Linked DNA regions of Homo sapiens. The protein of the gene in region 3 purifies or fractionates together with the protein of the main gene of each other region. This does not show direct contact. Each region holds a gene or a part of one and is shown on either strand. Other genes may lie near its edges. The genes, in order: DNAJC19, ATRAID and SLC37A3.

Region 1 (3,748 bases), on a different chromosome or scaffold from region 3:
CTGCAAATCCTGCAGCAGCAATGGTCAGTCCAACTGCTACCACTGTACTGGCCTGGTAAGGGGGAGAAGAGTAAATATTTACTTCTCTAATTCCCACCCTTTCTCATTTTGCCCATTCTTCCATCCCCAACTCATTACAAACTGCATTTTAATAGGAGAAACAACTTTTTTTTTTCTTTTTTTTTTTTTTTTTTTAAGAGACGGAGTCTTGCTATGTTGCTTAGGCTGGTCTTGAACTCCTGGCCTCAAGCAATCCTCCCACCTTGGCCTCCCAAAGTGCTAAGATTATAGGCATAAGCCACCATGCCTGGCAGAGAAACAACTTTTAAGGCGGAAATATTCTGTCCAGTAATCTTTAAAACTACTGCATCTGTTATGCTGAATGCATTAAAGTTACAGGATTCATCATATGGGAAAGAGGGCAAGTTCGACTTGCTTATTTATCTTTACAATAGTGAAAAAGATGATTCCCTCCCTTTGAAAACTTCTTTCATCACCAGACAAATTAAGTCACATTAAAGTTCAATCAAAAGTAGTGGAAATAGGCCAGGCGCGGTGGCTCACGCCTGTAATTCCAGCATTTTGGGAGGCGAGGCGGGCGTATCACTAGGTCGGGAGATCGAGACCATCCTGGCTACCATGGTGAAACCCCGTCTCTACTAAAAATACAAAAAAAAAAAAAATTAGCTGGGCGTGGTGGTGGGCGCCTGTAATCCCAGCTACTTGGGAGGCTGAGGCAGGAGAATGGCGAACCCGGGAGGCGGAGCTTGTAGTGAGCCAAGATTGTGCCACTGCACTCCAGCCTAGGCGACCGAGCAAGACTCTGTCTCAAAAAAAAAAAAAAAAATGTGGAAATAAGGTTTCTGCTACAGAAGGAAAAACTGTTTACAGACGGCTCCTGTAAAATTCTAACAACGCATTTTCGAGGCTAAACGTGGGCTAAACTAGGAGACTAATACCTTTGGCACTGCCCTGTTGTTTCCTAACAAGACAGGCCCAAATATGTTCAGGAAGCATGGAGAAGACATCTGTCAGCAAAAGCCAAAGAGAAGGACATAGCAAAGTGGAGCTAGTGCTGTGAAGATGTGTTAGGGCAAGGGCACTTATAATCAAATACGTTTCCACTAATCTCCGAGTCCATGACAGCCTCTGACCTTACAGGAGTTCCAGGCAAGCAACACCTGCAGAGCCCGTGCGGACAAGAAGCTGGAGAACCGTGCAGAAAGACGATGTAAAAACACAAACCCCCAAGAGAGCGAGCCAACAGGGTTGTGTCCTGGTGAGTGTGACTCCCCAATAACCGAAACCTCCCGCCCGCAGTCGCACTAAGGAGCACAACTTCAACTCCACACCTCCGAGGCGGGGAGCTGAGGTTGAGGCCTGGGCCGGAGGTCGCCAAGAAGACCGGAAGGCCGCACTCACCATGGCTCCGGCTGGGCTCCCTTGCTTCCACCGGGAGCACGGCTCATCCCAGCTCAGAGGCCGCGGCCAACACCTGCACGCCTTTACCAGAGAGCGACGCAACCCCCAACCTCAAGCACAGGCGCCCTACGCAACACGGCAGGAGCAGCCGCAAACTAGGCCGGAAAACTGTCGTAAAAGGGGACGCGGAGGAGAAGGAAAGTCGCTCAAGCAGTGGACAGAGCGGAGAAAGCGACTTCGGGTTGGTTGAAGGGTGGGCGGATCTCTTTATTTCTGGGTGTAGGGGTGGGGCTTCTCTGTGTTTTCTGTCCTTTGCTCCTGGGCGGTGGGTATTTGGAAATTCTTGCAGGGAAGGGCATGGGCAGCCTTACTCAGACCGATTTTTTCCCCCTACATCTTAGCACCTCGTTTTGCCTTTATTTTATGTTAATAATTGTCAAGGGTAATGAATGTAGTTAAACATGCTGTGACATTTCCACCACGAACCCAAACAAATATGTTGTAACCCAGTGTAGGAAACGAGATGCCCAGAAAAACAAATGAAACCAACCACACTGTGTTTCAGGGATTGCTCGGTAGCATTTTTTAATGTAAAAGAACTTCATTTAAGGATGTGACTTGACAAGACTTTGTGAATATTTGGGTTTTCGTTTTGTAGAATGGGATTAAAGACAGTTCATATTCTGAACATGGAATGTCAAGATCCTACAACTGAAAAGGGCTATTTAAAAGTTTTCCTCCTCACCCAAAATAAAAAGTAGGGCTGGATTTTGCCCTTACGTGGACATCAGTTTCATACATCCCTACATAAATGCTTGAGAAGAAAAAAATAATGGAGACAATAATGGAATTTTACAATGCAACGTTTGCATGATCAAAATAAGTTTGGAGTTACTTCCCACTCAGAATTTACAGTGTTAAATATCCGTTTACATTGCAATGCAATTCTGCTTTGATGAGTTTGTTAGTTATTAAACAAATATGCAAAATTTTTGGGTTTGTTTTCCTCATCTGTAAAAGCAGTTTGCATTTGATAATCCAAGAGCTCTTCTAGCGCTAAGGTTTTTGTGATGTAATTTATTGTCAACACATGATTTAAGGTGACATCCAGCACTAAGACACTAGCATTAAGTTTATAACTTCCTCTTTTGCCTCTCTTTTATCTGGTTTTTACCCAACAATTACAAAATAAATAATCAAGTGAGGCATAAGACCTTGGGACCAAATTGGCATCAACAAGCTAGAATGCTATCTGGAAAAATTTATTATGCATATTTTTGGTATGTACAAACTGTGTAATGCAGTTTCTGGAGGAATAGATTTACAGTAGACTCTAATTAGCTTTGAGACTTTACAAAACCCAGACTCAGGAAATTGGGAGTAGCAACACAGCAAGACATTTTGTTGAGCTGGAGATAGCTCTTTTTTTGGTGGCAGATCAAACTGGAGGTAACCTGGCTCTGTCACTTACTAATACTGTGACTTGGAAAAGTTATTTCTGATTGAGTTTCTTCCTCATTTGTAAAATGAAGGTAATGATAACTACCTTGCCGAGTTTTTGTGAACGTAGAGATTATGCACATATTGTGTTCTGCTTATGGTCATCACTCAGTGTGGGGCTATTATTATGAGGGAAGCCAGAGTGCAAATTGGAGTGTAGAAGCCTTCCTCATTCTCATGATACCTCACTCATGAATCTTAAGTCTGGTTGCCTCTTACCTACCTGCCAAGATCCTAGAAACAGCCTTGAAAAGTAATCTTTTTAAATGTCCACTGACTGATGAATGGATAATCATTCCTCATTTCTTCTAGCTTCTGGTGACTGCCAGCATTCCTTGACTTGTGACTGAATCACTGCAGTCTTGTAAGCCAGCATCTTGAAATCTCACTCTGCTCCAACTTTTCCATCTTCACATTGTCCTTCTCTTCTGTTTGTAAAATCTCCTTCTGGTTTCCTCTTAAAGGATATATGTAATTGCATTTACCAGCTACCCAGATAATCCAGGATAATCTCCCCTTCTTAAGATCCTTAACTTAATCATAGTTTCCAACACTTTGCCATATAAGGTAACATTCACAGGTTCCAAGTATTAGGACCTGAAATCTTTGGAACACATTATTTAGTTTACTATAGAAAGTAATAAAAGACAAAAGAGGGGGTAGGGACAAAAGAATGAGAAAGGACTCAAGCACATCTTCTTAGTTTCTCATCCCAAATTTTTAAATCAGGTAAGTCACTTCTCCTTGGGAAGAAATAAGTGAGAGTTGAGAGCGGTAGCTAAGAGTGTTCTTGCACTGTGGCTTTCAAACATTTTTTGACTGTCAT
Region 2 (3,748 bases), on a different chromosome or scaffold from region 3:
TGCATGATGTATGGAGAATTCCCCTGGATGGCCTGAGAGAGCCCCAGGGAAGACAGGAAAAACCTGACCTAGCAACAGACCAGATTCTGAGAACAGATCTGTAGTTTTCTAAACACCCTACATTGATCCAAACGCTATGGTCTCGCATCTCTCCAGAAAGAGGGCGGCCAAAAGCAAGAGCTAGCTGTTGTTTCACTACAACTATAACATGCCAAGGCACAAACAGCAGATTGTGGGACCCCCCCCCCTTTTTTTTTGGAGACGGAGTCTCGCTCTGTCGCCCAGGCTGGAGTGCAGTGACACGATCTCGGCTCACTGCAACCTCCACCTCCTGGGTTCAAGTGATTCTTCTGCCTCAGCCTCCTGAGTAGCTGGGACTACAGGCATGTGCTACCGCGCCCAGCTAATTTTTTTTTTTTTTTTTTGTATTTTTAGTAGAGACGAGATTTCACCATATTGGCCAGGCTGGTCTCAAAACTCCTGACATGACGATCCACCTGCCTTGGCGGATCGGTGGCCTGGCCACCGCGCCAGGCCAAGTTCAGGTTTTTAAAAGGGGTCCCACATCACTGCCTGTAATCCCAGCACTTTGGGAGGCCGAGGCGGGCAGATCACGAGGTCAGGAGATCGAGACCATCCTGGCTAACACGGTGAAACCCCGTCTCTACTAAAAAATACAAAAAATTAGCCAGGCGTGGTGGCAGGCGCCTGTAGTCCCAGCTACTCGGGAGGTTGAGGCAGGAGAATGGCGTGAACCCGCGAGGCGGAGCTTGCAGTGAGCCGAGATCGCGCCACTGCACTCCAGCCTGGGCGACAGAGCGAGACTCCGTCTCAAAATAAAAATAAAAATAAAAATAAAAACCTGAACTCACTTTGGTCACACACTGCAGTGGATCGCATTGACTCCTACAAAAGGCAATGAGACCACTGCAGGACTAACTGTTCCAAAAAGATTCCCTCAAAATCTGTCCTGGGGCCTATAATTCCTCAAGGTGTGAAAGGCTTTGGGGGCCCTCCTTAAAATGCTAATAGCTACTAACACCTTAGAAAATTTGCCAGCCAGCTAAACGTAAACCTTTCAGGAACTTCCAGGCAGACACCATGGGGGTAATGTGGAAGGGAAGCCTGGCTCGGCTACTCGAGATGATCACTTGGGTCGGCTTTAAGGAGCTTTCTGGCTGGCCCTAACCAACACTGTCGCGCCGGGAGCAGGGATCCCCTGGCGCCCTTCAGTCAGGGCGCTGGCCCACCCTGGGGCAGCAACGCACTCCCTTACCTCCGTGGTTCAGTCAGAGCTAGGAAGGTCCCTTTGTGCTTCCTGAGATCAACATCGCTCCCTTTTCCTGGGAAGGCAAAGAAAATGAGTTAGGGAAGCGTCTATCCCGCTCCTACCTCCTCGCCAGGCTCCGGGACGCTATGCGCTATCAGCATTGAGGTGAAGAGGACTAGGTGCCCGGGGCGATCCAGGCTCGTGTCCTCCCGCTGGAGTTTGAGGTTTGCCCTTCCCTCATCACCCTCACCCTCGTTCTTTCTCGGTTTCCCGCTTCCCTCTACGCGGCGGAGACCACCACCTTACCGCTCGCACTTAAGATCTCAGACCCACGCCGGAGGCCGGCTCGCTCCGCCCCTCCCCGCCCCCTTGTCCCCGCCCCGGCTCAGACGCCGCTCCCCGGTGCCTCTCGGCACCGGCTCACGCTCTCCAGGCCCACCTGCCCGGTCTCCACACGTGGGTAGCCAGAGCCCGGCCGAGAGCCCTGGCCGGGAGCCCGCGGGGGCCCCGCCCCCTGCCCGCCCCCTGCCCGCCCCGCTCGCCGTGCCGCCATGTTTACTGAGGGCGGATGGAGGGGCCCGAGTTTCTGCGAAGCCGCGACCTCGGCGTCCGGACGCGGGGAACACCGGGCTGAGGGAGTCTGCAGTCGGCTCCGGGAAGCCGCGCGGCGACGGGGGAGGCCTTCACTAAAGGGGAAAAGGAAGAGGGGGTCGGCCAGTATCCCCGAAAGAGGGCTAGGGCGCATGAAGACCAGCGCAGAGCTCCACGAGCAGGAAAAGCCCCCAAGCAGCCCCAGGGCGACTGGACCGGGCCGCTTAGGCCACGCCCGGGGAAGAGGGCCTGACGCGCTGCGGGGCGGGGCCGCGGGGCCGGGTCGCGCGAGCAGCGGAGCACCAAGGGAACGGAAAATGGCGCCTCACGACCCGGGTAGTCTTACGACCCTGGTGCCCTGGGCTGCCGCCCTGCTCCTCGCTCTGGGCGTGGAAAGGGCTCTGGCGCTACCCGAGGTACAGAAGCAAGTTTGAGGTCGGGCTGAAGCAGGGTCGCTGGCCAGCCGTGCGTCGCGCTCGCCAGCGGCTCCCCCTTCTCCTCGGCGGGCCTGCGGTTCTGATTTCGTCCCTGACGCTTCCCGACCCTGCCCAGCCAGGTCCTGTTCCCAAGTACTCACGTCGTGCAGGCCTTCGGCGCCCCAGTCCTGCCGACTTTCAAAGACCTGTGAAACTTGATTTCGCCCCTTAATTTTAGAATAACTTTAAGTTCTTTCTACAGACGGGTCCTCTGCCTCTTGTGTAATCTCTCTACGCACGAACGCCATATATCGTGCGGTGGTAGGGCTGTACTTTTGTAATGCTTGATGAGTTCTTTACGTACCTGCGGTCGTTTTACACCGCGCCAAACTAGGGCTGTCAGATTGAGAAGTCTCTGCAGAAAGCATAATAAATAAGTTCGAATAGTGATCTTCAGAGATGAGGACCTTCCCTGTGCGATATCTGGTACTGAAAGTGTCGGGAGCTGATTCGGCGCAGGACTCTGGAGGAAGAGATGGCATCTCCTAGCCTAGCCTGTTACAAGGGTGGGACACGAGCCGTTTATCCATTTATCGGCCCCGTGTTAGAGGAATTCTGGAAACGTGTACTGGCAGTTAATTCTTGATCGCCGTTTGTTCTTTTCTTGGCTTTTCTTTCTGGAGTTCTAATGTTTCTTTCTCTTCTGCAGATATGCACCCAATGTCCAGGGAGCGTGCAAAATTTGTCAAAAGTGGCCTTTTATTGTAAAACGACACGAGAGCTAATGCTGCATGCCCGTTGCTGCCTGAATCAGAAGGGCACCATCTTGGGGTGAGGGGAAGACATCCCTAGATGCTGGATACAGGCCATTCCTTAGCCTGGCTGCTTTTATACCCTTATATTATTTAAAGAATCCACCTATTATGGTTTCAGCTGTAATCATCACGCAGATGTCTACCAAAACTAGATCTCTTTAGTGTCTTTTTTAACCTTTCCACACTCCAGGTACATACGGGTACCTCTAGCTTCCTATTAAGCATTTCCTACTGAGTGCACCCTAACTTCAAACTCAAAATGTTATGTTTTGCTTCCATTCTCTTCTTTCCTTCATCTACCTAAATACTTCTCTGTATTAAGCTTTTAGAAAACCAACATTTTCCATTATCACTCTCTTGCTTTAATACTATATTTAGTATTAAATTTTGTCTCAGGACAAAATTCAAACCATTAAGTACCATACTAGTCCCAACCCACTTTTCCAACATTATTTCCAATTACTTGTCCGCTCAAACCTCCATAATGGTCTGCACCAGCCAGATTTGCCTGCCCTCAAAGGCATTCCACCTTTGTTCAGGCCTCTCTCCATACCTGAAATTGCCTTCCTCTACCAAATTAGGAAATATCCATCCTTCAATTCCAACATCTTTTGTGAATATTTACTACTACTAAGTTCCAGAGTAATACCTTTTTT
Region 3 (3,748 bases):
AAAAAGAAAAATCAAAAATAGCATTCACAACTTGTTTTTGTAAGGGATAGCCGATGGCTTTGACAGTTTTTCCTTTTTTCATGTTTTGCTGTCTGATTTGTGGTCTCCTGTCCCCACTGGTCATCATGGTGATTTAACAGACAGTTTATTCCTAAAAGGAAGTTATGGAGGACCCCTTTTCAGGGAGTCAGACCTATTTTTTTTTGAGACAGAGTCTCGCTCTGTCACCCAGGCTGGAGTGCAGTGGCGCAATCTCGGCTCACTGCAAGCTCCGCCTCCCAGGTTCACACCATTCTCCTGCCTCAGCCTCCTGAGTAGCTGGGACTACAGGTGCCCGCCACCACGCCCGGCTAATTTTTTTGTATTTTTAGTAGAGACAGGGTTTCACTGTGTTAGCCAGGATGGTCTCCATCTCCTGACCTTGTGATCCACCTGCCTCAGCCTCCCAAAGAGCTGGGATTACAGGTGTGAGCCACCGAGCCCGGCCCAGCCATATTTTTTGATAGACTAGTGTCAGGCTGCTGCTAGTGAGACTAGAGGGCAAATGGGGAGCACGCCTCAGGTGAGCGAGCTAAATTAGAAGTGATTTTGATTGCTCGACACTCTGCTTGAAGGTGGAACTTTGCAAGGCTTCATCTCTGATGTACTACAGAAGAGAGCGCCGGTTCTTGCCCTGAGTCTGCTTCTGGCAGTTGGGTCCCTCATCGGGTATAGTCGTGAGTATTCTTTTGCAATTACTAATTCCTTTGCTCCCCTAATCTGGTTGGAATAAGGCATTTGTTTGGAGTCAGTGACCAGTGCTGGGGAGAGCCTGGAGACCAGCTTCAAGGCCCGATATGCCACCTTTGCATTGTCCTGTGAATGCCTGGGAAACCTGTCATCACATAGTTTTATTTGTCTTGGGAGGAAACTGGCATCTCTTTTGCTTTGTTAATTTGCTTAAAAGCTTGCTTGGGAGTGTATATGCTTTGTTTGGGGGAGGCTCCAGAGGCACAGCATTATAGCCAATAAAACAATAAAAAGGGAACAGGTTTCAAAAGCGGAAAGATGGTAATTAGTAGGTTTGGTATATTCCCTTAAGATGCTGCTGAGACAGGAGTAGAGCTTTTCTTTAGCTTTTAGAAGTCTTGTTAGCTTGAGCATTAGCAAGAGGCAGACGTTACAAATCAGAGTTGAAAGAGGCAGAGAGAGTTGTGTCTCTTTGTTGTCTCTGGGAGTGATTTGTGAGGTCACGGAGATTCAGATCTTCGCGTACGGTTGGCAGAGGCACGTGGAGTCTGCTTTTCAAGCCACCATGGTTTGTCTGTGTCTTCCCTCACAGGTTCTCCAAATGATAAGTCCATCAATGCCCTTCTGATGACTGTTACAGGTACGGCACATGGCTCTGCTCCACCATGCTTCTGTTGCTCTGTAAATTCAGAGGAAAAGGGAAACTGTTTTCTCCCTCAATTTGAGTAGTACCGAAACCTTAATTACAGAGAATTCAAATTTTAAAAGGAAAAACGCCTCCTTTTCCAGATTCTTTTTCTCTGCTGTTTCTTACATGACCTCCTCAGTCCTATTGTGACAGAAGCGGTCCCTATTGACAGAGATTTTCTACGATTTTTGATTGCTGCCCCAGCTTCTGCTCTTACCTCTAAAAGTGACTTAGAAAAATGCCACATGGGAGACCAATTCACCAGCTTTCAAAAAAATCCACAATAGCTCGTGTCTCCTCCTGTGTTGGAATTGGTCAGCATTTTGTCACTTGAGCACTAGATAAAATAGTTGGGTGCATTTAGGGACTATGTTATAGAAAAATTACTTACTTTATTTATTATTTATTTATTGAGACAGAATCTTGCTCTGTTGCCCAGGCTGGAGTGTAGTGGCACAGTCTCAGCTCACTGCAACCTACACCTCTTGGGTTCAAGTGATTCTCCTGCCTCAGCCTCCTGAGTAGCTGGTAATATAGGCGTGCACCACCACGCCCAGCTAATTTTTGTATTTTTAGTAGAGACATGGTTTCACCATGTTGCCCAGGCTGGTCTCAAACTCCTGACCTCAGGTGATCCACCTGCCTTGGCCTCCCAAAATGCTGGGATTACAGGCGTGAGCCACCATCCCCAGCCAGAAAAATTACTTATTTTAAACTTTCTAATTTTATTTTTATTTTTGAGAAGGAGTCTCGCTCTTGTCACCCAGATGGGAGTGCAGTGGTGCGATCTCAGCTAACTGCAACCTCCACCTCCTGGGTTCAAGTGATTCTTCTGCCTCAGCTTCCCAAGTAGTTGGGATTACAGGCGCCTGCTACCATGCCCAGCTAATTTTTGTATTTTTAGTAGAGACAGCGTTTCACCATGTTGCCCAGGCTGGTCTCGAACTCCTGACTTCAGGTGATCTGCCCACCTCAGCCTCTCAAAGTGCTGAGATTACAGGCATAAGCCACTGCGCCCGGCCAGAAAAGTTACTTATTTTAAACTTTAGATCATGCTTGGGAGAGTGAGCTGCTCATTCTACTTGGGGTACATGGAACTGATTCCAGCAGTGGGACCAGATTCACCTGGGCCATCGCATGCCTGATTCATGGGCAGCCTCACTGAGAGCAGTGGCAGATAGAGTCACCTGCTCCATTGCAGTGGCTTTTTCCTCTTTGCTCTTTTTTTTCAATATTCCTGGTTGAATTTGTGTAGTGGAATGATCATATGATGCAACTACCGTAATAGAATTTATTTGACAAGCTAGTGCAATTAGTTATTAATGAATGTAAACTTCACAGGATTAGAAGGGCTATGTGTTTCACTATTTTTGTATCTTTGGGTTCTACAAAATATACTAGAGTGTCACATAATTCGAGAAGGGATTTCAGGAACGTGGATGTTAACTACTAATAGTTTGAAAATGATACTATCTGGGGGTTTCCTTTTTTTTCCACTTCTCTCCAACATATTAAGAAAACTATTCGGATATTATTTTGCCTTATGCAGTAGATTGCTAGTGGTTGTGAATTGTGTTTTAATAAGAACCTGTTTATGACTTCAGGATTTTTTATTGGTGGACCTTCTAATATGATTAGTTCTGCTATTTCTGCGGACTTGGGTCGCCAGGAGCTCATCCAAAGGAGCAGTGAAGCTTTGGCCACTGTCACAGGAATTGTGGATGGTTCGGGGAGCATTGGAGCTGCAGTGGGCCAGGTGAGAGAACAGGAGAGGGGCTGGGATTCTAGTGTCTTCCCTCAAAGGCGGCTGAATGTGAACCTGCCCTCTGGGCCTCAGTAGGTGGCACTCTTGTGCTGTAGAACGCTGTTCCCAGAGCCCAAGGACTTCCGTCTCCCCTCAGGACCAGCTGATGCGTCCTAATGTAGAAGGACTCTCCATTGTTTTTAGTTCCTTTTTTCTACTTATACTTCTAGATTCTTCCTGTCTGCAAATAAGCTAAGACCTCGTAAGACAGACAGATCCTTCTGCCCCAGCCCACCATCCCCTTCTTTCTTTCCAGGCTGAACTTGGTATTCCGTGGTGGGGGGTGCTTCTTGTTATCCCCACCTGGCATGTGGACCCCACCATTGCTGTCTCCCGTCTCCCTCTCCCAGACACTCTACTGCATACACGTTCCTTCCTGGGCCCCGCCAGACATGGCCATGGACTCTGCAGCTGCTTCTGAATCACTCGCTCTGCTTCCTGTGTATCCAAAAATCTCTGACTGTATCTCAAAGAGTGGCCCATAAGTGTCTGGTATCAGAATCATCTGGGACACTCATTAAAGTACA

Evidence for each region.
Region 1: the proteins of SLC37A3 (region 3) and DNAJC19 purify together in Homo sapiens (affinity purification with mass spectrometry; 3 studies listed by BioGRID and IntAct, with this or other methods). This does not show direct contact.
Region 2: the proteins of SLC37A3 (region 3) and ATRAID purify together in Homo sapiens (affinity purification with mass spectrometry; 4 studies listed by BioGRID and IntAct, with this or other methods). This does not show direct contact.

The regions. Positions count from the first base shown.
Region 1 is NC_000003.12:180,988,178-180,991,925, forward strand, and holds the start of DNAJC19 (mitochondrial import inner membrane translocase subunit TIM14), read right to left. Parts: upstream 1,560-3,748; 5' UTR 1,426-1,559; coding exon 1,423-1,425; exon of another isoform or gene 1,155-1,422; intron 53-1,154; coding exon 1-52. UniProt on the Homo sapiens protein: Mitochondrial co-chaperone which forms a complex with prohibitins to regulate cardiolipin remodeling.
Region 2 is NC_000002.12:27,210,191-27,213,938, forward strand, and holds the start of ATRAID (all-trans retinoic acid-induced differentiation factor isoform c precursor), read left to right. Parts: upstream 1-1,850; 5' UTR 1,851-2,178; coding exon 2,179-2,277; exon of another isoform or gene 2,278-2,417; intron 2,418-2,438; exon of another isoform or gene 2,439-2,597; intron 2,598-2,986; coding exon 2,987-3,108; intron 3,109-3,748. UniProt on the Homo sapiens protein: Promotes osteoblast cell differentiation and terminal mineralization. Plays a role in inducing the cell cycle arrest via inhibiting CCND1 expression in all-trans-retinoic acid (ATRA) signal pathway.
Region 3 is NC_000007.14:140,342,837-140,346,584, reverse strand, and holds part of SLC37A3 (sugar phosphate exchanger 3), read left to right. Parts: intron 1-614; coding exon 615-716; intron 717-1,321; coding exon 1,322-1,369; intron 1,370-3,021; coding exon 3,022-3,173; intron 3,174-3,748. UniProt on the Homo sapiens protein: Unlike the other SLC37 members, lacks glucose-6-phosphate antiporter activity.